Linked DNA regions of Homo sapiens. The protein of the gene in region 1 purifies or fractionates together with the protein of each later gene. This does not show direct contact. Each region holds a gene or a part of one and is shown on either strand. Other genes may lie near its edges.

Region 1 (3,500 bases):
ATGATATAATTAAAGACTTGAAATACTCTCCTGTGTAACAGTAGATCAGATAAGGTACACAGTATGTTTTATCTTTTATAATCACCGCTTTAATAGCAGATGTGCTATTAAATAGGAAAAGTGCCCTTCACGTGCCATTTTATAATTGCATATTATAAAATGATCACACCCTTAACTCATCCTCTGCAATTTCTCAGTAGTATGGCACTTGACAAAGCACTTGCTCTCATTCTTCATAATAACCCCATGAAGGCTGCGGGGCATTTTTGTGTTGTTGCTGCTGTAAGAAAACAGGTTTGATTATCTAACTGATGGAATTTATATTTATTTAACCTATTTTTAGGAATGACCCCAAGTTGCATATATTCGGAAGCCTGCATTTAATGTTTTAACTGTTTTTCTATTAAGTTTACTGATTTGTTATAGGTTTGCAACTCTCAGAATATTTTGTTTATATTAGCAGGGCATTGAGATTGTTTATTCTAAATGCATTTTTTTGTTTTGCAATCTTATAGGCCCTGGCCTATTTTGAGCAGTTAAAAATTTCCCCAGATGCCTGGCAGGTGTGTGCAGAAGCTCTAGCCCAGAGGACATACAGGTAATTAAAAACAAAATTTGCATGACAATTTAAATTTCTGTGGACATGACAGGACTGTGAAATTTACCTGTATTTGGAAAGTGTTTTCATAAAAACATTTTATGACTTTTTTTTTTTTTTGCAAAGCCATTAACATATAGTCATTCCATGTAGAAATGAGAAAAGTAGTAAACCCAGTTTGGCCATTTCAGAATTAACTTTTCAGTAAAACCATCCTTTGGTATATATTGTGTACCTGTCACCAGATCCCAGCTGGAATAAAGTGCAGTAAAAACTTCCTTATCTTATGATTGAGGGTGATAACTGCTTTCCTAAAACTTTGGTAAAGACGGTGATTGTAAATGATATATATCTTAATTTTAAAATTATTTATTTATTTTATTATTATTATTATTATTTTCTTGAGATGGAGTCTCGCTTTGTCGCCCAGGCTGAAGTGCAGTGGCGCAATCTAGGCTCACTGCAAGCTTCGCCTCCTGGGTTCTTGCCATTCTCCTGCCTCAGCCTCCTGAGTAGCTGGGACTACAGGTGCCCATCACCATGCCCGGCTAATTTTTTTGTATTTCTTTTTGGTGGAGACAGGGTTTCACTGTGTTGGCCAGGATGGTCTCGATCTCCTGACCTTGTGATCCGCCCGTCTCGGCCTTCCAAAGTGCTGGGATTACAGGCGTGAGCCACCGTACCCGGCCTATATCTTAATTTTTAATTTTAACTTAAGGTATATAATCATTCGGTGACCAATCTTTTAATATTGGACCACAGTCTTTATCTTTGTATACTAACTAGCATTCACTTTATTCGTAGGTTGGTCACACCTGTAACCCATCCTCTACAATTTCTAGCATGGGTCTCTGTACAATGAGTGACGATCCATAGATTTTTAAGATATTTGTCCCCGCCTCTCAAGTCTTCTGGTTATATAGGCCATGTCAAATATGTACAAGATTTTTTCCTTCTGCAGTGTGGCTTTCTATGAAATCTTTCTAAAGCATTCAACTAACTTTTTACGGAAATAGGAACTCTCTTATACTCACTTCATTGGCAGATTGTTGGTCTCTAGAAGATCTTTGTCAGTGTTTATAGCTGGCTAACTGCAACTCTGCCACTCCCCTAGAAAGACAGTTGGAAGTGGGTAATTGGTGTGTTGACTTTTGCCCCCATCTTGTATAAGCAAGGGTACCATATTTGTAATTTAGTGTCCTGTACGAAACTTTGAAGTTGGACTGACAGTCCATGTGGCCCTGCTTGTTTTGGATTTGGCTACAATAGAACTACTGGGGTTGAATTTTAAGCAGGACTTGGACGACCATCTTTACTTTCACTCAGACTCTGTCTGTTCTGCCATTTGTAATTTTACACCTAACCTGTTATTGTAAAATGAAGGGACTGTTCCAGGAATCTTAATATCTGGAATTTAGAGGGATGGTTTGCTGCTTACAAAGCATTGTATTCAAGGTGCATCTTAATATCTTGGTTAGTTTGCTTGTCAGATTTAATGGAAATTTTAAATATTGTGTAATATTTAGAGTTCTCATAGCTTTTTAAGTAAATGGATTTTAATGTCATAAAATGAGACCAGTAAGTATGAAACAAGCCAAAGGTCTAGTTTGAGAAACTTTTCTGCTGTATTACTCATTACTATTTTGCCTTTGATTTGTTTTCCTCAGTTCATATTCTGCTTATCTCATTTTCTTTTTTTCTTTTTCAGTGATGATCATGTGAAGTTTTTCTGCTTTCAAGTACTGGAACATCAAGTTAAATACAAGTAAGGCTTTTCTTACTGTTTTGACTCAGATTTGCGGGGAGAGGTCATTTTTTTAATTTAATGTTTTTCTTCCATAAGGAAACCATAATACAGGTTGTAAATTCACAGTGTATATGTTATATCCAGGTTATAGATACGTTTTGATGTACCCCAAAGTGTTTTAAAAGTGCTGAGTTGGCCAGGTGAGGTGGCTCTCGCCTGTAATCCGAGCACTTTGGGAGGCTGAGGCCGGTAGATCACTTGAAGTCAGGAGTTTGAGACTAACCAGCCTGGCCAACATGGTGAAACCCCGTCTCTACAAAAAATACAGAAACTAGTCAGATGTGGTGGCATGCACCTGTAATCCCAGCTACTCAGGAGACTGAGGCACGAGAATTGCTTGAACCTGGGAGGCGGAGGTTGCAGTGAGCCGGGATCACACCACTGCACTCCAGACTGGGTGACAGCGAGACTCCGTCTCAAAAATAAAAAAAGTGCTGAGTTTGTTGGTTACACATAAAAATCCAAGGCTGGGCGCAGTGGCTCATGCCTATGATCTCAGCACTTTGGGAGTCCAAGGCAAGAGGATCGTTTGAGCTCAGGAGTTTGAGACCAGCCTAGGCAACATAGTGAGACCTCATCTCTACAAAAATTTTTTTAAAAAATTAGCCAGGCATGATTGCGCGCTTCTGTATTCCCAGCTACTGGGGAAGCTGAGGCCAGGAGGTTGAGGCTCCAGTGAGCCATGATGGTGCCACTGCACTTCAGCCTGGGCAATACAGCAAGACCTTGTCTCAAAAAAAAAAAAAAAAATGAAAATCCAGATATTTCACAGAAAAATCTAGATTTCCAGCTTTTCTGGAAAAGTCAGAATATCTGGTAACACCAGGCCTGTTTTTCTACATGACAATTCTCTCTTAGAGTTAAGTAGCTGCATGGGCACTTGTGTTCAGAATCTCTGACTTACTAATTAAGCAAAATAACAAATCACTACTGAGAGGATTCCTAGTTCACCTATTGGTTTATTCTGTAGATCACAGACCACAAAACATTTTCATTCGAAAAATTGTGTAGCCATCATTTGTTTCAACATGAACAGAATCACAAATTAAAGATTGATATTGATGCCCTACCTGCCACTCTTGTCCTTATCTTTAA
Region 2 (3,500 bases), on another chromosome or scaffold:
AATTGCTTTCTTAATTTCCTTTTCTGATTGTTCGTTGCTGGTACAGTAGTCCCTTCTTATCCACAGTATTGCCTTACGTGGTTTTACTTAGCTGTGTCACCCGTGGTCCAAAAATATTGAATGGAAGATTATATAAATAAACATTTCATGAGTTTTAAATTGCAAACGGTTCTGAATAACATGGTAAAAATCTCACGGCCTCCTGCTCCGTCCTACCTAGGACACAAGTCATCCCTTTGTCCGACATATTCATGCTGTATGTGCTCGCCACCCGCTAGTTACATACTAGTCATCTCAGTTATCAGATCAGTTGTTGGAGTATTGCAGTGCTTGTGTTCAAGTAACCTTTATTTTATTTAAAATGGCACCAAAGAGCAAGAGTAGCGATGCTGGCAGTTCACATATGCAGAGAGAAGCCATATAGTGCTTCCTTTAAGTGAAGAGGTGAGTTTTTTTGTTTTTTTTTTTTTTTGGCTTAAACAACAGAAATTTATTTTCTCATGGTTCTGGAGGCTAGAAGCGGCAGATCAGGGTGCTGCTGCTTTGGTTCCTGATGAGGGCTTTCTTCCTGGCTTATAGGTTGGCTGGCATCTTGTCCTCACATGGCAGAGGGAGAGTACTGTAGTCTCACCTTGCTTTTTATTATTATTATTTTTTTAATTTATTTTTTTATTGATAATTCTTGGGTGTTTCTCACAGAGGGGGATTTGGCAGGGTCATGGGACAATAGTGGAGGGAAGGTCAGCAGATAAACAAGTGAACAAAGGTCTCTGGTTTTCCTAGGCAGAGGACCCTGCAGCCTTCCGCAGTGTTTGTGTCCCTGATTACTTGAGATTAGGGAGTGGTGATGACTCTTAACGAGCATGCTGCCTTCAAGCATCTGTTTAACAAAGCACATCTTGCACCGCCCTTAATCCATTTAACCCTGGGTGGACACAGCACATGTTTCAGAGAGCACAGGGTTGGGGGTAAGGTCACAGATCAACAAGATCCCAAGGCAGAAGAATTTTTCTTAGTGCAGAACAAAATGAAAAGTCTCCCATGTCTACTTCTTTCTACACAGACACGGCAACCATCCGATTTCTCAATCTTTTCCCCACCTTTCCCGCCTTTCTATTCCACAAAACCGCCATTGTCATCATGGCCCGTTCTCAATGAGCTGTTGAGTACACCTCCCAGACGGGGTGGTGGCCGGGCAGAGGGGCTCCTCACTTCCCAGTAGGGGCGGCCGGGCAGAGGCGCCCCTCAGAAGAGGTGAGTTTTTGACTTAGGAAAGAAAAAAGATCATATACTGGAGTTGCTAAGATCTATGGTAAGAACAAATCTTTTGTCCATGAAATTGTGAAGAAGGAAAAAGAAATTTGTGCTAGTTTTGTTGTGACACCCCAAACTGCAAAAGTTACAGCCATAGTGTGTGATAAGTGCTTAGTTGAGATGGACAAGACATTAAATTTGTGGGTGGAGGACACAAACAGGAAACATGTTTCGATTGACGGCAACCTGGTTTGATACTATTCATCGTTTTGGACATTCACTGGGGTCTTGGAATTTCAAAAATAAGATGTTTGAGTAGCTGTATACTCTTTATCACATGGATGGAACATACTCTGGTTGTATCAGCATTTTTTTTTTTTTTTTTTTTGAGATGGAATCATTCTGTTGCCCACGCTGGAGTGCAGTGGTGCGATCTTGGCCCACTGCAGCCTCTGCCTCCCGGATTCAAGCGATTCTTTGCCTCAGCCTCCCAAGCAGTGGGGATTACAGGGGTGTGCCACCATGCCCAGCTAATTTTTGTATTTTTAGTAGAAAGGAGGTTTCTGCATGTTGGCCAGGCTGGTCTCGAACTCTTGGCTTCAGGTGATCCGCCCGCCTCGGTCTCCGAAAGTGCTGGGATTACAGGTGTGAGCCACCGCACCCAGCCTGGTGTGCATCAGCATTTTGGACTTTGGAGTTTATGTAACCAAGGAGCCAGGCTGTGGACCTCGTTTATTACTTGAAGAATTCAATATTTATTTCTGCCTTTTTGACTCCTTGACTGTAAAATACTGATCTGATCTGTAGAGAGAACAGTACATGGACCAGGGAATCCTCAGTGCCTTAATAGATCCTAAGTACTTACTTATTCTTTCCCATAGAGGCTTACACATGGTAGGAAAAGAGATTTCTGGAATACCTTTCCTCCCCAAAGAAAGCTGGTTTCTTTTGTTTGTTAAGTGAGAGAGTGGTACCACAGGGTTTCCAAGATTTCCAAGGCTGATGAAAATTCTTCTGTTGTCTGCTTGTCTTACTTTCTTGAATTTATTTTTTGTATGTTATGTATTTATTATTTAGAGAGAGGATCTCCCTGTGTCACCCACGCTGGAGTGCAGTGTCACAGTCATAACTCACGGCAGTGTCAACCTCCTGGGCTCAAGTGATTCTCCTTCCTTGGCCTCCTGAGTAGCTAGGAACACAGGCATGCTCCACTATGCCTGGCTATTTTTTTCTCCCTGGAGACAGGATCTTGTTGTGTTGCACAGGCTGGTTTCAAACTCTTGGCCTCAAAGCTAGCCTCCCACCTTGGTCTCTGAAAGTGCTAGAATTAAAGGTGTGACCAACTGCACCCAGCTTATTTATGATGATGATGATGATGATGATGATGATGATGATGATGATGATGTTTGGGAGATGGAGTCTCGCTCTGTCGCCCAGGCTGGAGTGCAATGGCACGATCTCAGCTCACTGCAACCTCTGGCTCACTGCAACCTCCACCTCCTGGGTTCAACTGATTCTCGTGCCTTAGCCTCCCGAGTAGCTGGGGTTACAGGCACCCACCATCATGCCTGGCTAATTTTTGTATTTTTGTCAAGACGGGGTTTCACCATGTTAGCCAGGCTGGTCTCAAACTCCTGACCTCAGGTGATCCGCCCACTTCGGCCTCCCAAAGTGCTGGGATTACAGGCATGAGCCGCTGCACCCAGCTCTATTTTTTGTTTTGTGATAGGAAATTATAAAACATGGAATTATGCATTTGTCAGCCTTTAAAAAAACTTTTAAGTGAATGAAAGTGGCGTATTTGAACATCAACTTAGGACAGATTTTTACTACTTTTGAAAAAATGTTGGAAAATATTTCTGTATGAAAAGTAAAACAACTTTTAATTTTTTTTAGAAGTCAATGAAAGGATTCTATTTTGCAAAGCTGTATTATGAAGCTAAAGAATATGATCTTGCTAAAAAGTAAGTACAAACTGTAACATGTATTTTTTTTTTAAAATCAATGCCTTTTCTCATTTTCTTCTTTGAAATAGGTAAAAATATGTTCTTAGTAGTTCTTCCTAAGTGTATTCTGGAATAAGGGATTTATCACTCAGACTGATGCTAAGGACCAGCCTAGATTCCATTGAGATTGAAACCGTAATTAGTGTTTTCTGCATGCTGCTGCTTTATACCAAGGGCAAGAAATTGTTTGGCTTCAAATACTTTTTCTAAAAATTGTCTTCTGTTGGAGTAAAAGAGGAC
Region 3 (3,500 bases), on another chromosome or scaffold:
CTCCAGCCTGGGCAACAGCAAGACTCCGTCTCAAAAAGAAAGAAAAAAAGAACTTCATTGTGCTCCCAAAGCCTACATCATTGTGCTTTGTTTGTGACTTCCCTTCAAAGATTGGGTGAGGGAAAAGAACTTTGTGTCCCTAAAGCCAAGAAAGGCTATTTTAATGAGCCTTTAATGTTCATTCATCAAATATTTATTGATGTATTATGGAAGGCACTATGATGGTCATTTGGGGTTTTTAAGAAGGTCATTGCTGGCCGGGCGTGGTGGCTTACGCCTGTAATCCCAGCACTTTGGGAGGCCAGGGCGGATCACTTGAGGTCAGGAGTTCGAGACCAGCCTGGCCAACATGGCGAAACCCCGTCTCTACTAAAAATATAAAAATTAGCCAGGCATGGTAGTGCACGTGCCTGTAACCCCAGCTCCTTGGAAGGCTGAGACAGGAGAATTGCTTGAACCTGGGAGGTGGAGGTTGTGATGAGCCGAGATTGCCCCATTGCACTCTAGCCTGGGCGATAAGAGCAAAACTCCATCTGAAGAAAAGTAAATAAAAAATAAAAAGGTCATTCCTTTCAAATAGCTCAGACTAGAAAGGAAGATAGGAAGACACCTCTATAAACAAATACACCGTGGGCCGGGTGCCGTGACTCACGCCTGTAATCCCAACTCTTTGGGTGGCCCAGGTGAGTGGATCACCTGAGGTTGGGAGTTCGAGACAAGCCTGACCAACATGGAGAAACCCTGTCTCTACTAAAAATACAAAATTAGCCGGGCGTGGTGGCGCATGCCTGTAATCCCAGCTACTCGGGAGGCTGAGGCAGGAGAATCGCTTGAACCCGGGAGGTGGAGGTTACTGTGAGCTGAGATTGCGCCACTGCACTCCAGCGACAGTGTGAGACTACATCTCAAAACAAACAAACAAAAAACAAATACATTGTGTAAGAGTAATCAAAGAGATCACTTCTGGTAGATGATGATGTAGAAGGATCAGACATTTCAAAATAAGGAGCATTGCAACTGGGCATGCTGGTGCCCACCTGCGGTTCCAGCTACTTGGGAGGCTGAGGTTGGAGGATCAGTTGAGCCCAGGAGTTCAGGGCTGCAGTGAGCTGTGGTCGCAGCACAGCACTCCAGCCTGGGTGATAGAGCAAAACTCTCTTAAAAGAAAAATAGCATTTGAATTTTTTCCCTTTAAAAGAAAAAAATCTTTTTTTTTTTGAGACAGAGTCTCACTCTCTGTTGCCCAGGCTGGAGTGCAGTGGCTCCATCTCGGCTCACTGCAAACTCTGCCTTTCGGGTTCAAGCAATTATTCTACCTCAGCCTCCCGAGTCGCTGGAATTACAGGAGCGTGCCACCGTGCCTGGCTAATTTTTGTATTTTTAGTAGAGATGGGGTCTCACCATGTTGGCCAAGCTACTCTGGAACTCCTGACCTCAAATGATCCACCTGCCTCACCCTCCCAGAGTGCTGGGATTACAGGCATGAGCCACTGTGCCTGACCAAAAGAAAAAATCTTTTATTTAAAGATTTCAATAAGTAGTGCACATTCATTATGTACGAAGTACAAAAAAGGCAAAACATTACCTATAATTTCACAGACCAGAGCTAACTACTGTTATATTGTGGTATATATCCTTGCAATATTTTGAAGACTTAAAAAATATATGTGTATATTTATGTATACCATGTATCTGCAGTATATATTTGTGTGTGTGTGTGTTTTTTTTTTTTTTCCAGACAGTGTCTTACTCTGTCACCAAGGCTGGAGTGCAGTGGCATGATCTTGGCTTACTGCAACCTCTGCCTCCCAGATTCAAGCCATTCTCCTGCCTCAGCCTCCCAAGTAGCTGGGATTACAGGCGTGTGCCACCACCCCTGGTTAATTTTTATATTTTTTGTAGAGATGGGGTTTCGCCATTTTGGCCAGGCTGGTCTTGAACTCCTGGCCTCAAGTCATCTGCCCTCCTTGGCCTCCCAAAGTGCTGGGATTACAGGCATGAGCCACCGTACCCAGCTGTACAGTTCTTTACCTAGCATTTCTTGTGATGTAAATATGAAAAAATGCTATGTAAAGAAATCAGTAAAATTTGAAAACTTAATTTTTAATTCCACACTATCATCTATTTAATTTTTCCTTCCCACATTTTTTTTTTCTAGGTTAATAATAAAAATTGCTCTGGGTGCGGTGGCCCATGCTTGTAATCTTAATACTTTGGGAAGCTGAGGCAGGTGGATTGCCTGAGCTCAGGAGTTTGAGACCAGCCTGGGGAACACGGTAAAACCCCGTCTCTATTAAAAATACAAAAAATTAGCTGCCGAAGTGGCGTGCGCCTGTAATCCCAGCTGTTTGGGAGGCTGAGACAGAAGTATCACTTGAACCCGGCAGGTGGAGGTTGCAGTGAGCCAAGATCACGCCCTTGCACTCCAGCTTGGGTAACAGAGCAAGACTCCGTCTCAAGAAAAAAAAAATTGCTAACTGTATATGAGAAGGCAAATAATGTCTTTTAAGTTTTGAAATGGGATGGTGGGTTTCTGATAGCTGAAAATTGAGAGAAAGGGCATTTATGCTTGTGCAACAAATAATACTGAAATACGTATATGTAGAGAAAATTCATAGAGTAGGGGAAGACATTTTGGGAAAGTTTTTTTTTTTTTTTTTTTTTTTTTTAAGATGAAGATGAAGTCTTGCTGTGTTGCCCAGGCTTGAGTGCAGTGGCGTGATCTCAGCTCACTGCAACCTCCACTTCCCGGGTTCAAGCGATTCTCTTGCCTTAGCCTCCTGAGTAGCTGGGACTACAGGTGCATGCCACCACACCAGGCTAATTTTTGTGTTTTTAGTAGAGACGAGGTTTCACCATGTTGGCCGTGCTGGTTTTGAACTCCTGAGCTCAGGCAATCCGCCCTTCTCGGCCTCCCAAAGTGTTGGGATTACAGGCGTGAGCCACCATGGTTGGCTGGGCAAAGGATTCGTGCCTGGAAAAAAAGGTTGATGTTAGTTCCTCTCTTGGATTGCTATAGTTCACTCATATAAATGTAGATACTGAACTCTTATGCAAACTCATTATGTATGTGCTTTGATATGTAAACTATTTCTTTAAAATATATTCATATACTTAAACCAAATAACACCAGCAGATGCATACAAGAGCTACCTCTTGAGTCATTTTATCTCGAACCTCACTTCCCAATGCAGAATAAATTGCTCCCTCATCCATGTTCCCATAGTGTTGTATAAAGACCTGACCTCACAGTCTTATAGTTCCTAGTTCCTAGTCTCACTCATTAGACTGTGAATTCCTCAAAGGCAGAAGCTATATTTTAAACATCATTGAATCCCTAGCACTTACTACAGTTCTGGCATAGTTGTTTTTAATTGACTTTTCCTCTCTACAGCTGAGGAGGATGAGGACAAGGAAGATGATTTCCGAGCTCCCCTTTACAAAACAGTGGAGATAAAGGGCATCCAGGTGCGCATGAAATGGTGTGCCACCTGCCGCTT
Region 4 (3,500 bases), on another chromosome or scaffold:
CTCCTAAAACGTTGGTATTACATGCGTGAGCCACCGTGCCCAGCCTTGTACAGTGATTCTTAATAGTTAGGTATATATTCTTTCATATCAGAAATTTATTTATTTATTTTTTTTTTTTGAGATGGAGTTTTGCTCTTATTACCCAGGCTGGAGTGCAGTGGCACGATCTCGGCCCACTGTATCCTCTGATGTGAATTGTTCAAGCAATTCTCCTGCCTCAGCCTCCTGAGTAGCTGGGATTACAGGCATGCACCTCCACGCCCAGCTAATTTTTTTTGTATTTTTAGTAGAAACAGGGTTTCGCCATGTTGGTCAAGCTGGTCTTGAACTCCTGACCTCAAGCGATCCACCCGCCTCGGCCTCACAAAGTGCTGGGATTACAAGCGTTATCCACCACACCCAGCCGAAATTTCTTTCTTTATAAATATATTTTATTATATAAAGATTATGCACGAATGATATATTCTGTAACCTGCTTATTTCCATTTATTTTATTAGAAATGCCTTTCCATTATCTGTATGAATATATTTGTCTTTTCTTTTTTAATGATTGCATAAGTCATTATTGTGAATGTAAGATAACTTGACCAGTTCCTTGTTAGTGGACATTTAGATTATCCGGTATTCCTGTACTCAAAACAGTGCTTCAGTAAAAATCCTTATATACTGGCACAAGTTCTCAGGGCCTCCTGAGGGCTGTATCACGAAAAAGAAAAAAAAAAAAAGAAACCCTTTGTATAGACACCTTTGTACTCCTGTTTTTTTTTTCTTTTGGATAAAATTCTAGTGTTTTTTATTATTATTATTATTTATAAAGCATTTTTTAACATTTTGTTGATTGTAATCTTAAAAATCTAACATTTTTTTCAGTTTTTAATCTTAAAATTAACCAATTATTTGATTCCATATAGGAGAGTATACAATAGAGATAGTAATTATCTGTTTCACAGTACTGCTGTAGTAAGTATTAAGTGAATTTTTAATACATGGAACTATCCAGAACAGTGCCAGGCACTTAGTAAAGGCTCGGTATTAGTTAGCTATTATCATTGTTATTACTACTACAAGAGGCTAAGGTATTATTTCTTTTCCTTTGCAGATTTAGTTTCCTAAGCAAACCTGTTGATGAGAATCACCAGCAGGATGGAGATGAAGATTCCCTTGTTTCACATTTTTATACTAACCCTATTGCCAAACCTATTCCTCAAACCCCAGAAAGTGCTGGAAATAAACACAGCAACAGCAACAGTGTGGATGATACCATTGTTGCATTAAACATGCGTGCTGCTTTGCGAAATGGGCTGGAAGGAAGCAGTGAAGAAACGTCTTTTCATGATGAGTCACTTCAGGATGACCGAGAAGAAATAGAAAATAATTCTTACCATATGCACCCAGCAGGTCAGGTTCAGATTGGTGCATGTTTAATCTCTTACCAGTCATTCGAGATGACTTGCTTGTTGCAGATATTCAACATATGGAAGTCAGCTGTTTGGCATTTTAAGTATTATTTTATGTGATCCCACATAGGAGAGCTTAATATTTAAACAGTTTTATGCTTTAGTTGATTCAGAGTTCACATACTCTTTGGACCTTAGAGTATGAAAATTGATACATCTTTAATTATCCTGGTGTAGTCTAAAGAACCCAAATTTTATAGCCAAAGAGACTATCCTGATATTTTCCCTGGCTTTGTAAACTCGGATAGATTGCTTATTGTTTTTTGTTTGTTTGTTTGTTTTTTCTTGAGACAGTGTCGCTCTGTCGCCCAGGCTGGAGTGCAGTGTCGCAGTCTTGGCTCACTGCAACCTCAACCTCCAGGGATCAGGACCTCTCATCTCAGCCACCCGAGTAGCTGGCACTACAGGCACATGATACCACACCCCGTTAAGTTTTGCATCTTTTGTTTTGCCATGTTTCCTGGGCTGGTCTCAAAATCCTGGGCTCAAGTGATCCTCCTATCTTGGCCTCCCAAAGTGCTAGGATTACAGGCATGAGCCACCATGCCCAGCCCATTTTGGGTGTTTTGTGGTATTCTTGAAGTGTCTCCAAAATTTATATTTAGTTTTCTTATTGCCATTATATATATATATATATTTGGTTACTTAGTATCATAAGGAAAGAAGTTTATACTTTGACAGTAAGAATCCCAGGTAGCCTGGGTGTGGTGGCTCAGCACTTTGGCAGGCTTAGGTGGGAGGATCGTTTGAACCCAGAAGTTTGAAATCAGTCTGGGCAACATAGCAAGACCTGATATCTACAATAAACTTAAAAGTAATTAGCCAGGTGTGGTGGCATGTACCTGTAGTTGCAGCTACTACGGAAGCTGAGGTGGGAGGATCACTTGAACCCAGGATTCAAGGTTGCAGTGAGCTATGATTATGCCACTGAACTCCAGCCTGGGTTGACAGACCAAGATCCTGTCTCCTAAAAAAAAAAAAAAAAAAAAAAAGAATTCCAGGTGCTTAATCTGTATTTGTGTATGTATCTCTACATGAATTTATTATGCTACTATATATCTTTTTAATAGGAAGTTTTATATTCTAGTTTTTTCATTTACCTTGTTTGCTGCCACCCAATTTAGAGTTCCCTTCCCAAGAAGCAAGTATACAAGTGGGTGTTGCTGGAGGCTGGAGTTTGGTCTGATGTTGGCCTGAAATACTTTTCTCTCAGAGAGCAAGTTAGCCTTATATCTGACTACAAGTAGGACAAGGAGTGAATAGAGCAAGCAAGCACACCAGCGTTCCACTACTTTCCTTGAGTTTTTCAGCGCTCTGCTTTTTTTATTTTGGTATTTTTTTTTCTATTTTAATTTATTCTTTCTTTCTTCTTTTCTTCCTTCCTCCCTCCCTCCCTTCCTTCCGAGTTTCACTCTTGGTTGCCCAGGCTGGAGTGCAGTGGTGTGATCTCAGCTCACTGCATCCTCTGCCTCCCAGGTTCAAGCGATTCTCCTTCCTCAACCTCCCGAGTAGCTGGGATTACAAGCACCCGCCACCATGCCCAGCTAATTTTTGTATTTTTGGTAGATAATGGATTTTTGCCATGTTAGCCAGGCTTGTCTTGGACTCCTGGCCTCAAGTGATTTACTCACCCCGGCCTCCCAAAGTCCTTGGATTACAGGCATGAGCCACCTTGCCTGGCTGGATTTTTCATCTTTCTTTTAGCTCTTTATTTGGGAGTGTAAATTTGAAAAATAAAAGAGGTTTATGCAAAACAGGCAATGAAACAAGAAGAATTGGGTTTGGAGTTTTATATCTACTTCTATTGTTAAATTACAGTATAAGCCAACACAAGTTATTTCCACTGTAGGTTTTGGTATCCTTGTGTGTAAAATAAAATAAAAAGCTGATTAAGCTTTTCTCAGAGTATTTTATGAGATACCTTTTATAGTCCGGGATGTTAATGGGTGTCCTTTGAAAATAATGTTCTGTGGTTAAATCTGGAAAAACACGAGGTTAAGCAGAGTTTAATAGGCTATTTACTGTAAGTTTTAGACTCTTTGA
Region 5 (3,500 bases), on another chromosome or scaffold:
TGAACACTGCTGAACTGTACACTTAAAATTTGTTGAGATTGCATTCTATGTTATGTGCTTCCTTTAAATTACAGTTTTAAAAAATCAAACATCTTGGAGTTGTAAGGAAAAAATACAGAGATTGTAGAGTTCTAAGACCTATGGTTGGCCAGGTGTGGTGGCTTATGCCTGTAATCCCAGCACTTTGGGAGGCTGAAGTGGGCAGATCACCTGAAGTCAGGAGTTCGAGACCAGCCTGGCCAACATGGTGAAACCCTGTCTCTACAAAAATACAAAAATTAGCCTGGCATGATGGCAGGTGTCTGTAATCCCAGCTACTCGGGAGGCTGAGGCAGGAGAATTGCTTGAACCCAGGAGGAGGAGGTTGCAGTGAGCCGAGATCATACCACTGCACTCCAGCCTAGGCAACAGAGCGAGACTCTGTCTTAAAAACAAACAAACAAAAAACAAACAAAAAAACCTATGCTTGTATTTCAGCTGTATAACTTAACTAGTCTTGTGACCTGTATCAACCTGGCTGAGTACACTCACAGACTTGTGAATAAGCAACTATTAACACTGCTTGGCAGTCCTTCTGTGATAGTCTGGTCACCTCGTCCATTCACAGCAGTGACTACTTCAGACCTTTCTACACTCTTCAAATCTTTAACCTGCAACTAACTAAACCCTCAGACTTCTAGTCACAGAGAAAATAGGAGCCAACATACATGAACTCCCTTTATTCACTCTCAAACCTACAAACCTAGGTGTGTCTGCATTCTTTTGAATCACTTTTCCTCTGTCTTCCTATCTAATGTAAATCCCACCCATTGTGTTCTTCACCTGTTACCCCTTTTTTTGTCTTGTATATTCACTTCTCTCTCTTGCTCTTCCCTTTCTCTCCACTGATGATCTCATGCGTCACTCCACTTACTGTCCTCTTCCTAGTCAAGCCTTTCAAAAGATTTGTTAGTATTCATGGACTCCATCTCCTTCCTTCCTTTGTTCCTTCCTTCCTTCCCTCCTTCCTTCCTTCCTTCCTTCCCTCCCTCCCTCACTCTGCCCAGGCTGGAGTGCAGTGGTGCAGTCTCGGCTCACTGCAGTCTCCACCTCCCAAGTTTAAATGATTCTCCTGCCTCAGCCTAGTAGCTGGGATTACAGGCCTGAACTGCTATGCCCAGCCTACTGACTCCCTTTTCATACCTCCTATTCCTTCACCCATTCTGGTCTCTTCCATCCTTGTAAACAGCTCTCAATAGGGTTAACTTCTGTTTCTTGTAGTTCAGAAAGTTCCTTTTTAAAAAATTATTTTTTATTTTGAGACAGGGGCTCATTCTGTCGCCCAGACTGGAGTGCGGTGGTGTGATCTCAGCTCACTACAACCTCTGCCTCCCAGGTTCAAGAGATTCTCCTGCCTTAGCCTCCCTAAGTAGCTGGGATTACAGGCGCCCACCACCACACCTGGCTAATTTTTGTAATTTTAGTAGAGATGGGGTTTCACCACGTTGGCCAGGGGTGCCTCGAATTTCTGACCTCAAACGATTCACCTGCCTCGGCCTCCCAAAGTGCTGGGGTTATAGGCATGAGCAGAAAGTCCCCATGTTTTAAATCTTCATTTGGCTTGATCTTTTAGAGTAAAGACCAAAATCCTTTTTTTTTTTTTTTTTTTTTGAGACAGAGTCTGGCTCTGTTGCCAGGCTGGAGTGCAGTGGCGCGATCTTGGCTCACTGAAACCTCTGCCTCCCAAGTTCAAGCGATTCTCTTGCCTCAGCCTCCTGAGTAGCTGGGACTACAGGCGTGCGCCACCACACCCAGCTAATTTTTGTATTTTTAGTAGAGCAGGGTTTCACCGTGTTGGCCAGGATGGTCTTGATCTCCTGACCTCGTATCTGCCCGCCTCGGTATCCCAAAGTGCTGGGATTACAGGCCTGAGCCACCACACTCGGTCATCAAAATTCTTTAACGTGGGCAAGTGAGCCCTGTGTGATGATCTTGCCAAACCCGTTTTCTGTACTGCAGCTCTCTTGGCCTTTTGAGTTCTTTGACATGCCGCATTCCCTCTTGCCATGGAAACCCACAGGTTGTCCTCTCCCTGGAATGCATGTCTTCACCTCCCACCTGTCAGTTAACTATCACTTTTGTTCTTCAGATTTCAGCCTAGTTATCACTTCCTCATGGATAATTCTTTCCTCTGGCTAGGTCAGAGTCCCCTATTATGTGATCTCTTGCCCTGGCTACCTCTCCTTCATATCCTTCATATCCTGACCACAGTTGGATTTTATTTTATTTTTATTTATTTTTTTATTTTTTGAGATGGAGTCTTACTCTGTAGCCCAGGCTGGAGTGCAGTGGCGTGATCTCGGCTCACTGCAGCCTCCGCCTCCTGGGTTCAAGCGATTCTCCTGCCTCAGCCTCCCTAGCAGCTGGGACTACAGGCGCATGCCATCACGCCTGGCTAATTTTTTGTATTTTTGGTAGAGACGGGGTTTCGCTGTGTTGGCCAGGACGGTCTTGATCTCCTGACCTCGTGATGTGGCCCGCCTTGGCCTCTCAAAGTGGTGGGATTACAGGCGTGAGCCACTGTGCCCGGCCAGATTTTACATTTATGTATGATTATGATTAATGTTTTTCCTCACTGCAGTATAATCTTACCAATACCTCACACATGGTGAATGAGTGAGTAAATGTGATTTGCTGGAGGTATCCCTAAACATTAAGGAAAATAAATGTATTTCTCAACTGACTAAACTACATGGTAAAAATACATATTTAGTAATTTTGAAAAATTTATAGTGTCCCTTCATTTGTAATCAGTAAAAAAGATATTTACTGTAATCCTAGCACTTTAGGAGGCTGAGGAGGGAGGATCACTTGAGGCCAGGAGTTCAAGGCAAGCCTGGGCAACATAGCAACATCCCAGTTCTACAAAAAATACAAAAATTAGCCAGGTCTGGTGGTGCGCGTGCGCCTGTAATCCTAGCTACTAGAGAAGCTGAGGCAGGAGGTTGCTTGAGCCCAGGAGTTTGAGGCTGTAATGAGCTGTGATTGCCTCACTGCACTCCAGCCTGGGTGACAGCAAGACCCTGTCACAAAAAACAAACAAAAAAAAGGTGTTTACTGAAATTGGTCAAACTCAAGACAGATTGAAGATAACTCTTTGTTGCGGCTACCTTTGGTGTTTTTTTTTTCTTTTTCTTCTTTGAGACGAGGTTTCACTCTGTTGCCCACGCTGGAGTGCAGTGGCTCAGTCATGGCATACTACAGCCTCTACCCTCTGAGACTCAGGTGATCCTCCCACTTCAGCCTCATGAGTAGCTGAGACTATAGGCACAAGCCACCATGCCCAGCTATTTTTTTTTTTTTTTTTTTGAGACGGAGTCTTGCCCTGTCACCCAGGCTGGAGTGCAATGGCATGATCTCAGGTGACTGCAACCTCTGCCTCCTGGGTTCAAGCAATTCTCCTGCCCCGGCCTCCCAAGTAACTGGGATTACAGGTGTTAGCCACCATGCCCAGCTAATTT
Region 6 (3,500 bases), on another chromosome or scaffold:
TTGTGGGTCCAGTGATACACACGTGACCAGGAGGACGGGAAGAAAGAAAACCTCAATAGGCACAGATGACACAAAGGGAAGGCTTTTATTCAGCCCATCTTTTCTCTGTAAATTCCCCTCAATTCCATATGGCGATACTGTTTAAGAGAAAATGAGAAGCCAAATCCTAGCGTGTTCAGTGATTTTCAACTGGATGTATGTATTGGGTGAGGCGGGGAAGGGGGGATGTTAACTGATGGGAATGCACTCGTGTCACTTAATGATGGAGCTATGTTCTGATAACTGCCTCCTCGGGGATTGCGTCCTTCTGTGAGCCTCCTAGGGTGCCCTTACACACACCTAGATGGTACAGCCTATTACACACCTTGGCTGTATGGTACAGCCTTTGCTCCTGGGCTACAAACCTGTACAGCATGTTACTGTACTGAATACTGTAGGCAATCGTAACACACTTGGCCTATCAAAACACAGAAAAGGTACAGTAAAAATATGGCATAGGTTGAGCATCTCTAATCCCTGAAATACTCCAAAAATCTGAAACTTTTTGAGCACCAACGTGACTCTTAAAGAAAATGCTCATTGGAGCGTTTTGGATTCCAGAATCTTGGATGAGGAGTGCTCATGTATTAAGTATAATGCGAGTATTCCAAAATCTGAAATCCAAAACACTTCTGCTCCCAAGCATTTTGGACAAGTGATACTAACTATATTATAATTTCATGGGACCACTGTCATATATGTGGTCTGTTGTTGACCAAAATGCCATTAGGCGGCACGTGACTGTACAAAATTCCTCAGACATGTAAGATGCTTGTGTGTTGATAATCACAATTATATCTTCCTTGGCATCTCTGTATACCTACTATGAGGCCCAGTGTTGGATAGTTTTTGAGATGTTGTGTAAGATGTCGTCCTTACCTCCTAGAGTTTATTTGTGAGGGGAATTACCTACATGAGAATGACTTGCAAACATTACATGATGGCATCGGAACGGTGGGGTTGTAATTCACTTACCTGATGGAGAGACCACTTCTTTCTGGAGTCAGGGACTTCAGGGAGTACAAGGTGTGAGGACTATGATTTGTAGAATCAGTGAGCAGGATTTCAGCAAATGCTTTGGGGGCAATGGTGTACATAAAACTACAGAGGTGGAAGAACACCAAATATGTTCATGCCCAGAAGAGCTAGCAGTGTTTGCCGGGCGCAGTGGCTCACACCTGTAATCCTAGCACTTTGGAAGGCCGAGGCAAGTTGATTATCTGAGGTCAAAAGTTCAAGACCAGCTGGCCAACATGGTGAAACTGCATCTCTAGCAAAAAATTTTAAAAAATTAACCAGGCATGGTGGTGGGCACCTGTAATCCCAGCTACTTGGGAGGCTGAGGCAGGAGAATCGCTTGAACCTGGGAGGCAGAGGTTGCAGTGAGCTGAGATCAGGCCACTGCACTCCAGCCTGGGCAACAAGAGAGAAACTCTGTCTCAAAACCAAATAAAACAAAGAGCTAGCAGTCTTGTGTGGGGCAGGAGGCTTGTGTTAGGTTGCTAAAGCCTGTGAGCCAGATCTGGCTGGCGGCTGGTCTCTTGCAGCTCCTGAGTTGAGAATAGTTTTTTAAAATCATTTTATTTTACTTAGTTTTGGAGAACAGGGTCTTGCTATATTGCCAAGGCAGGTCTCAAACTCCTGGGCTCAAGCTATCCTCCCACCTCTGCCTCCCTAAGAGCTGGGATTACAGGCATGAGCCACCGCACCCAGCCATTTATTTTTATTCTTGACATGGAGTCTTGCTCTGTCGCCAAGGCTGGAGTATACAGGTGCAATCTCAACTCACTGCAACCTCTGCCTCCCAGATTTAAGTGATTCTCCTGCCTCAGCCTCCTGAGTAGCTGGGATTGCAAGTGCCTGCCACCACACCCAGCTAATTTTTGTATTTTTATTAGAGACTGGGTTTCACCATGTCAACCAGGCTGGTCTCGAACTTCTGACCTCATGTGATAACACCCACTTTGGGCCTTTCAAAGTGCTGGGATTACAGGCGTGAACTACCACACCTGACTGAGAGTAGTTTTTACATGTTTAAAGGATTTTAAGGAAAACTCAAGAATGTAGCCCCTCCAGTATAAAATATATACTAAATCTTCATTATAGGGGATTCAGTGTTTGGCTTATTCTGTTTACTGGAGGGTTTAGTTATAACTTCTTAGAGATTTTTGGTTTTGTCTTGTTTTATTTAGGAAGCGTTGGGAGATGTTGTTTATTGTAGTCTCCCTGAAGTTGGGACAAAATTGAACAAACAAGGTGAGTGTTCTTAGGATCTTAGAATGATCCATGCCATGAATTTTGTTTACATTGAATAGTAATTTGTTTGTACCCTGGATTAATTAGAGTGCTTTTTTTTTTTTGGAGACAGTCTTGCTTTGTCACCCAGGCTGGAGTGCAGTGGCACCATCTCGGCCCACTGTAACCTCTGCCTCCTGGGTTAAAGCGATTCTTGTGTCTCAGGCACGTGCCACCACGCCCAGCTAATTTTTGTATTGTAGAGACAGAGTTTCCCCATGTTGGCAAGGCTGGTCTCGAACTCCTGACCTCGAGTGATCCGCCCGCCTTGGCCTCCCAAAATGCTGAGATTACAAGTGTGAGCCACCGTGCCCAGCCAATTAGAGTGCTTTTGACCCAAGTATTAGGTTGGTGTAAAAGTAATTGCTACTCAGAGGCTGAGACAGGAGAATTGCTGGAACTTGGGAGGCGGAGGTTGCAGTGAGCCGAGATCCCATCACTGTACTCCAGCCTGGGCAACAGAGCAAGACTCCGTTTTAAAAAAAAGAGAGAAAAAAAGTCTATTAATATCGATATGTTAGATAATATCCTTAAACTAATGAATACCCTTTTAAGACATTCTGCTAAAGGTAGTTTTTTAACTTGATGTAAAATCTACATACAGTGAAATGCATGGACCAGAAGTGTACAATTCAGTGAGTTTTAACAAATGTATACACTTAAATAAACCTTCCTAGTCAAATAGATGACCTCTTCTCTCGTTTCTACACCATAGGTTTATTTTGCCTATTCTTTATATGAAAGGAATCACACAGTGTGTGTTACGTTTGGCTGCTTTTGGGATTTACCAAGCTTCTTGAATCTGTAGATTGAATTTTTTTTCGATTAAATTTGGAGACTTCTTATTTTAGTCATGATTTCTTTCTCTTCCCACTTCATTCCTTTTTCCTTCTCTGATTTGAGACATGTTCGTCATATCACTTGATATTGTCCTATAGGGTCCCTAAGACTGTTAACTTTTCAGCCTTTTTTAAACTGTTCTTTTTTTTTTCTTCTTATTTTTTTGAGACGGAGTCTTGCTCTGTTGCCCAGGCTGGAATGCGATGGTGCGACATTGGCTCACTGCAACCTCCGCCTCCTAGGTTCAAGCAATTCTCCTTTTTCAGCCACCCAAGTAGCTGGGAGTACAGGCATGCACAACCACACCAGGCTAATTTTTTAAATTA
Region 7 (2,695 bases), on another chromosome or scaffold:
CCAGGGTGCCCTTTTCCCCTTGGTCATAGGTAAGTTGTGTGATTTGTTGGAGGTGTCAAGTATGTACTATGTGTCAGTGGAGAAAATAGTTTTCTTTAGATTAAAAGACCAGAATATTTTAATTCTTTGCATGTTTTTATATGTAAAGGTCAGAGTCTTTAATTTAAAAACCTATCATGTTGCGGCCGGGTGCAGTGGCTTACGCCTGTAATCCAGCACTTTGGGAGGCCGAGGTGGACAGATCACAAGGTCAGGAGATCGAGACCATCCTGGCCAACATGGTGAAACCACGTCTCTACTAAAATACAAAAAATTAGCCAGGCATGGTGGCACGCACCTATATAGTCCCAGCTACTGGGGAGGCTGAGGCAGGGGAATCACTTGAACCCAGGAGGCAAGGGTTGCAGTGAGCCAAGATTGTGCCACTGTACTCCAGCCTGGGCAAGAGAGCGAGACTCCGTCTCAAAAAACAAACAAACAAACAAAAAAACCTATCATTTTGCCCTAATGAAGTATTTCTGCTTTAACTATTGCAGGTTCGGCTTTCCAGTTTGGCAGCAGCACTACAAATTTCAACTTCACAAACAACAGTCCATCAGGAGTGTTCACATTTGGTGCAAATTCTAGCACACCTGCAGCCTCAGCCCAGCCTTCAGGCTCGGGGGGCTTTCCATTTAACCAGTCTCCAGCAGCATTTACAGTGGGGTAAGAGAATTTTTTATTGAAATGGAGAAGTTACATTGGTAAGGGTATGTGCATGTATATGTTTTGTTTTTAAAAGTCATCAAGATTCCGTATGGTTTGGGTAAAATTAAATATGTTCTCCAACATAAATTTACCATACTATAATTCTGGAGGATTATATTACAGTTTGAGAAAAAAATAACAGTAGCGTGTGTGTTAGGTGTAGCAGAAAATGTATATACCAATGTGAGTCTACTCCCCCCCCACCCGACCCCCCTTACCCTTGTGCTGCTCATGGTAAATGTTAGCATTTGGAAATTTTGCTCAGAGCATCATGTCACATTATGAAGTTTTTATTTTTCACAGGTCAAATGGGAAAAATGTGTTCTCTTCTTCTGGAACTTCATTCTCTGGTCGCAAGATAAAGACTGCTGTTAGACGCAGGAAATAAAGGTCACATTGGTGTTGTACTCAATTTTAACAACAGCTGGTGCCCTGCTTTCAGATACTGGATTGTACTTTGTGCTGGGGTTATCTGAAGTCAGATCTGCCTAAGGACTTCTTTAATTTTGGAATTTTCCTCCTTTCTCTTTCGTTACAGAAGCCCCACCCTGCCTCACCCACCCTTTTTTAAATAAATAAATAGCTAGACTGGTGACTGATTCTTCAGCAAAAATATTTTATGATCCAGCAGATTATTCACTGATTTGACATAGTCTGGCTGTACCCAGGAATGGAGCCTGCACGGTGAATGGCTTTGTATAGAACCTCTTTGTCTACACCATTATGTGCGCTGATAAGCGTTCATGGAACGCGTTGAAATTGTAATTATATCTGAGGAATTCTGTATAGATTAGAATTCTGTATAGATTAGAGAGTGTTGAAACGGATGATTTCTATGCTGAGTTTGTGCTGGTGTATGTGTGAAGTGAGTGAGTTGGGTGTATTGTGCGCTAAACTTTTCTGATAGAGGAAGCCTGATTAAAGAATGGTCCGTGCTAAGGACTTGTTAGATCTAGTTCACTCTCCATTTAATAATTATATGCTATTTCTATATTTTCATTCTCCTATCACCTGTCTTGCCTTTTTCATTATTTTATTATGAAACTTGTGTAAATACAATTTTGTTTCTGTACTTTTTGGCATAACATAAATCTGTGAACTTGAAATTTGAATTTTGTGTTAGAGATTTTTTTGTTGTTTGTTTAGTCTTGTCTCAGATTTTATTATGTAAATCCCATTATTCAAAGTTGCCTAAATCCATTTGGAAATCTTTAAAAAAAAAATTGGGGATTCTTAAAGTTGAATTTATTGGCTTTTCTGATCCAGTTTTGTTTGGACCAAAAACCAGTATTGTACAAAGTATTAAGCATATATTTTTATATTTACTAAAATGGACTGTGGTGACTTTGGATAATAAGGAAAAGTTTAATATTAAAGCCATGTTTATTACAGTATAATTAACATGTTAAACCATGGGATAAATGCCATCAATAAAAAATTATGACATACTTTTTGTTCTAGTTTTACCTCATAATGAAGGCACACAGTATTATTGGGGGGACTTTGTAAAATAAAGATTAACAGTGTCTCATTAGAAGAATACATTGACATGATTTAGACAACTCCTAAGAGAAAGGGAAAGTATCTGAAAGTATCTGAATGCACAACATATAGAAGGTACCCTACTTCTTGCCTGGTGCTAGGAATCATGCCTAATTTGCATATCGACTTAGGTACCTTTTTTAAAAGTTGAAAATACACACATTCATTTCTCTTTGTGCTTCTATCTTCCTTGGTAAGTTACTGGATAGTGTTTATTAAAGTTCTTGGAAATACATACACAAAAACTACAGTTGTCTCTTGGTGTGTGCAGGAGATTGTTCCCAGAACTGCACTCCCCCCCCCCCCCAGTTCTCCCGCCCCCAAACCACAATCCACAAATTTCAGCAGTGGACCCTGCAGAACCTGAGTATACCAAAAGCCAGCCCTCCGAATGTGCAGGTTTTAT

The links.
Region 2: the proteins of XPOT (region 1) and RANBP2 fractionate together in Homo sapiens (co-fractionation; one large-scale study listed by BioGRID). This does not show direct contact.
Region 3: the proteins of XPOT (region 1) and ZDHHC5 purify together in Homo sapiens (co-immunoprecipitation; one large-scale study listed by IntAct). This does not show direct contact.
Region 4: the proteins of XPOT (region 1) and NUP98 fractionate together in Homo sapiens (co-fractionation; one large-scale study listed by BioGRID). This does not show direct contact.
Region 5: the proteins of XPOT (region 1) and NUP205 fractionate together in Homo sapiens (co-fractionation; one large-scale study listed by BioGRID). This does not show direct contact.
Region 6: the proteins of XPOT (region 1) and GCSH fractionate together in Homo sapiens (co-fractionation; one large-scale study listed by BioGRID). This does not show direct contact.
Region 7: the proteins of XPOT (region 1) and NUP153 fractionate together in Homo sapiens (co-fractionation; one large-scale study listed by BioGRID). This does not show direct contact.

Annotation. Positions count from the first base shown.
Region 1 is NC_000012.12:64,414,392-64,417,891, forward strand, and holds part of XPOT (exportin-T), read left to right. Parts: intron 1-515; coding exon 516-598; intron 599-2,306; coding exon 2,307-2,363; intron 2,364-3,500. UniProt on the Homo sapiens protein: Mediates the nuclear export of aminoacylated tRNAs. In the nucleus binds to tRNA and to the GTPase Ran in its active GTP-bound form. Docking of this trimeric complex to the nuclear pore complex (NPC) is mediated through binding to nucleoporins.
Region 2 is NC_000002.12:108,725,982-108,729,481, forward strand, and holds part of RANBP2 (E3 SUMO-protein ligase RanBP2), read left to right. Parts: intron 1-3,150; coding exon 3,151-3,218; intron 3,219-3,500. UniProt on the Homo sapiens protein: E3 SUMO-protein ligase which facilitates SUMO1 and SUMO2 conjugation by UBE2I. Involved in transport factor (Ran-GTP, karyopherin)-mediated protein import via the F-G repeat-containing domain which acts as a docking site for substrates.
Region 3 is NC_000011.10:57,685,114-57,688,613, forward strand, and holds part of ZDHHC5 (palmitoyltransferase ZDHHC5), read left to right. Parts: intron 1-3,394; coding exon 3,395-3,500. UniProt on the Homo sapiens protein: Palmitoyltransferase that catalyzes the addition of palmitate onto various protein substrates such as CTNND2, CD36, GSDMD, NLRP3, NOD1, NOD2, STAT3 and S1PR1 thus plays a role in various biological processes including cell adhesion, inflammation, fatty acid uptake, bacterial sensing or cardiac functions.
Region 4 is NC_000011.10:3,721,055-3,724,554, reverse strand, and holds part of NUP98 (nuclear pore complex protein Nup98-Nup96 isoform 1 precursor), read left to right. Parts: intron 1-1,099; coding exon 1,100-1,398; intron 1,399-3,500. UniProt on the Homo sapiens protein: Plays a role in the nuclear pore complex (NPC) assembly and/or maintenance. NUP98 and NUP96 are involved in the bidirectional transport across the NPC. May anchor NUP153 and TPR to the NPC.
Region 5 is NC_000007.14:135,560,917-135,564,416, forward strand, and holds part of NUP205 (nuclear pore complex protein Nup205), read left to right. Parts: intron 1-3,500. UniProt on the Homo sapiens protein: Plays a role in the nuclear pore complex (NPC) assembly and/or maintenance. May anchor NUP62 and other nucleoporins, but not NUP153 and TPR, to the NPC.
Region 6 is NC_000016.10:81,086,396-81,089,895, reverse strand, and holds part of GCSH (glycine cleavage system H protein, mitochondrial precursor), read left to right. Parts: intron 1-2,231; coding exon 2,232-2,295; intron 2,296-3,500. UniProt on the Homo sapiens protein: The glycine cleavage system catalyzes the degradation of glycine. The H protein (GCSH) shuttles the methylamine group of glycine from the P protein (GLDC) to the T protein (GCST).
Region 7 is NC_000006.12:17,614,537-17,617,231, reverse strand, and holds the end of NUP153 (nuclear pore complex protein Nup153), read left to right. Parts: intron 1-536; coding exon 537-705; intron 706-1,050; coding exon 1,051-1,135; 3' UTR 1,136-2,195; downstream 2,196-2,695. UniProt on the Homo sapiens protein: Component of the nuclear pore complex (NPC), a complex required for the trafficking across the nuclear envelope. Functions as a scaffolding element in the nuclear phase of the NPC essential for normal nucleocytoplasmic transport of proteins and mRNAs.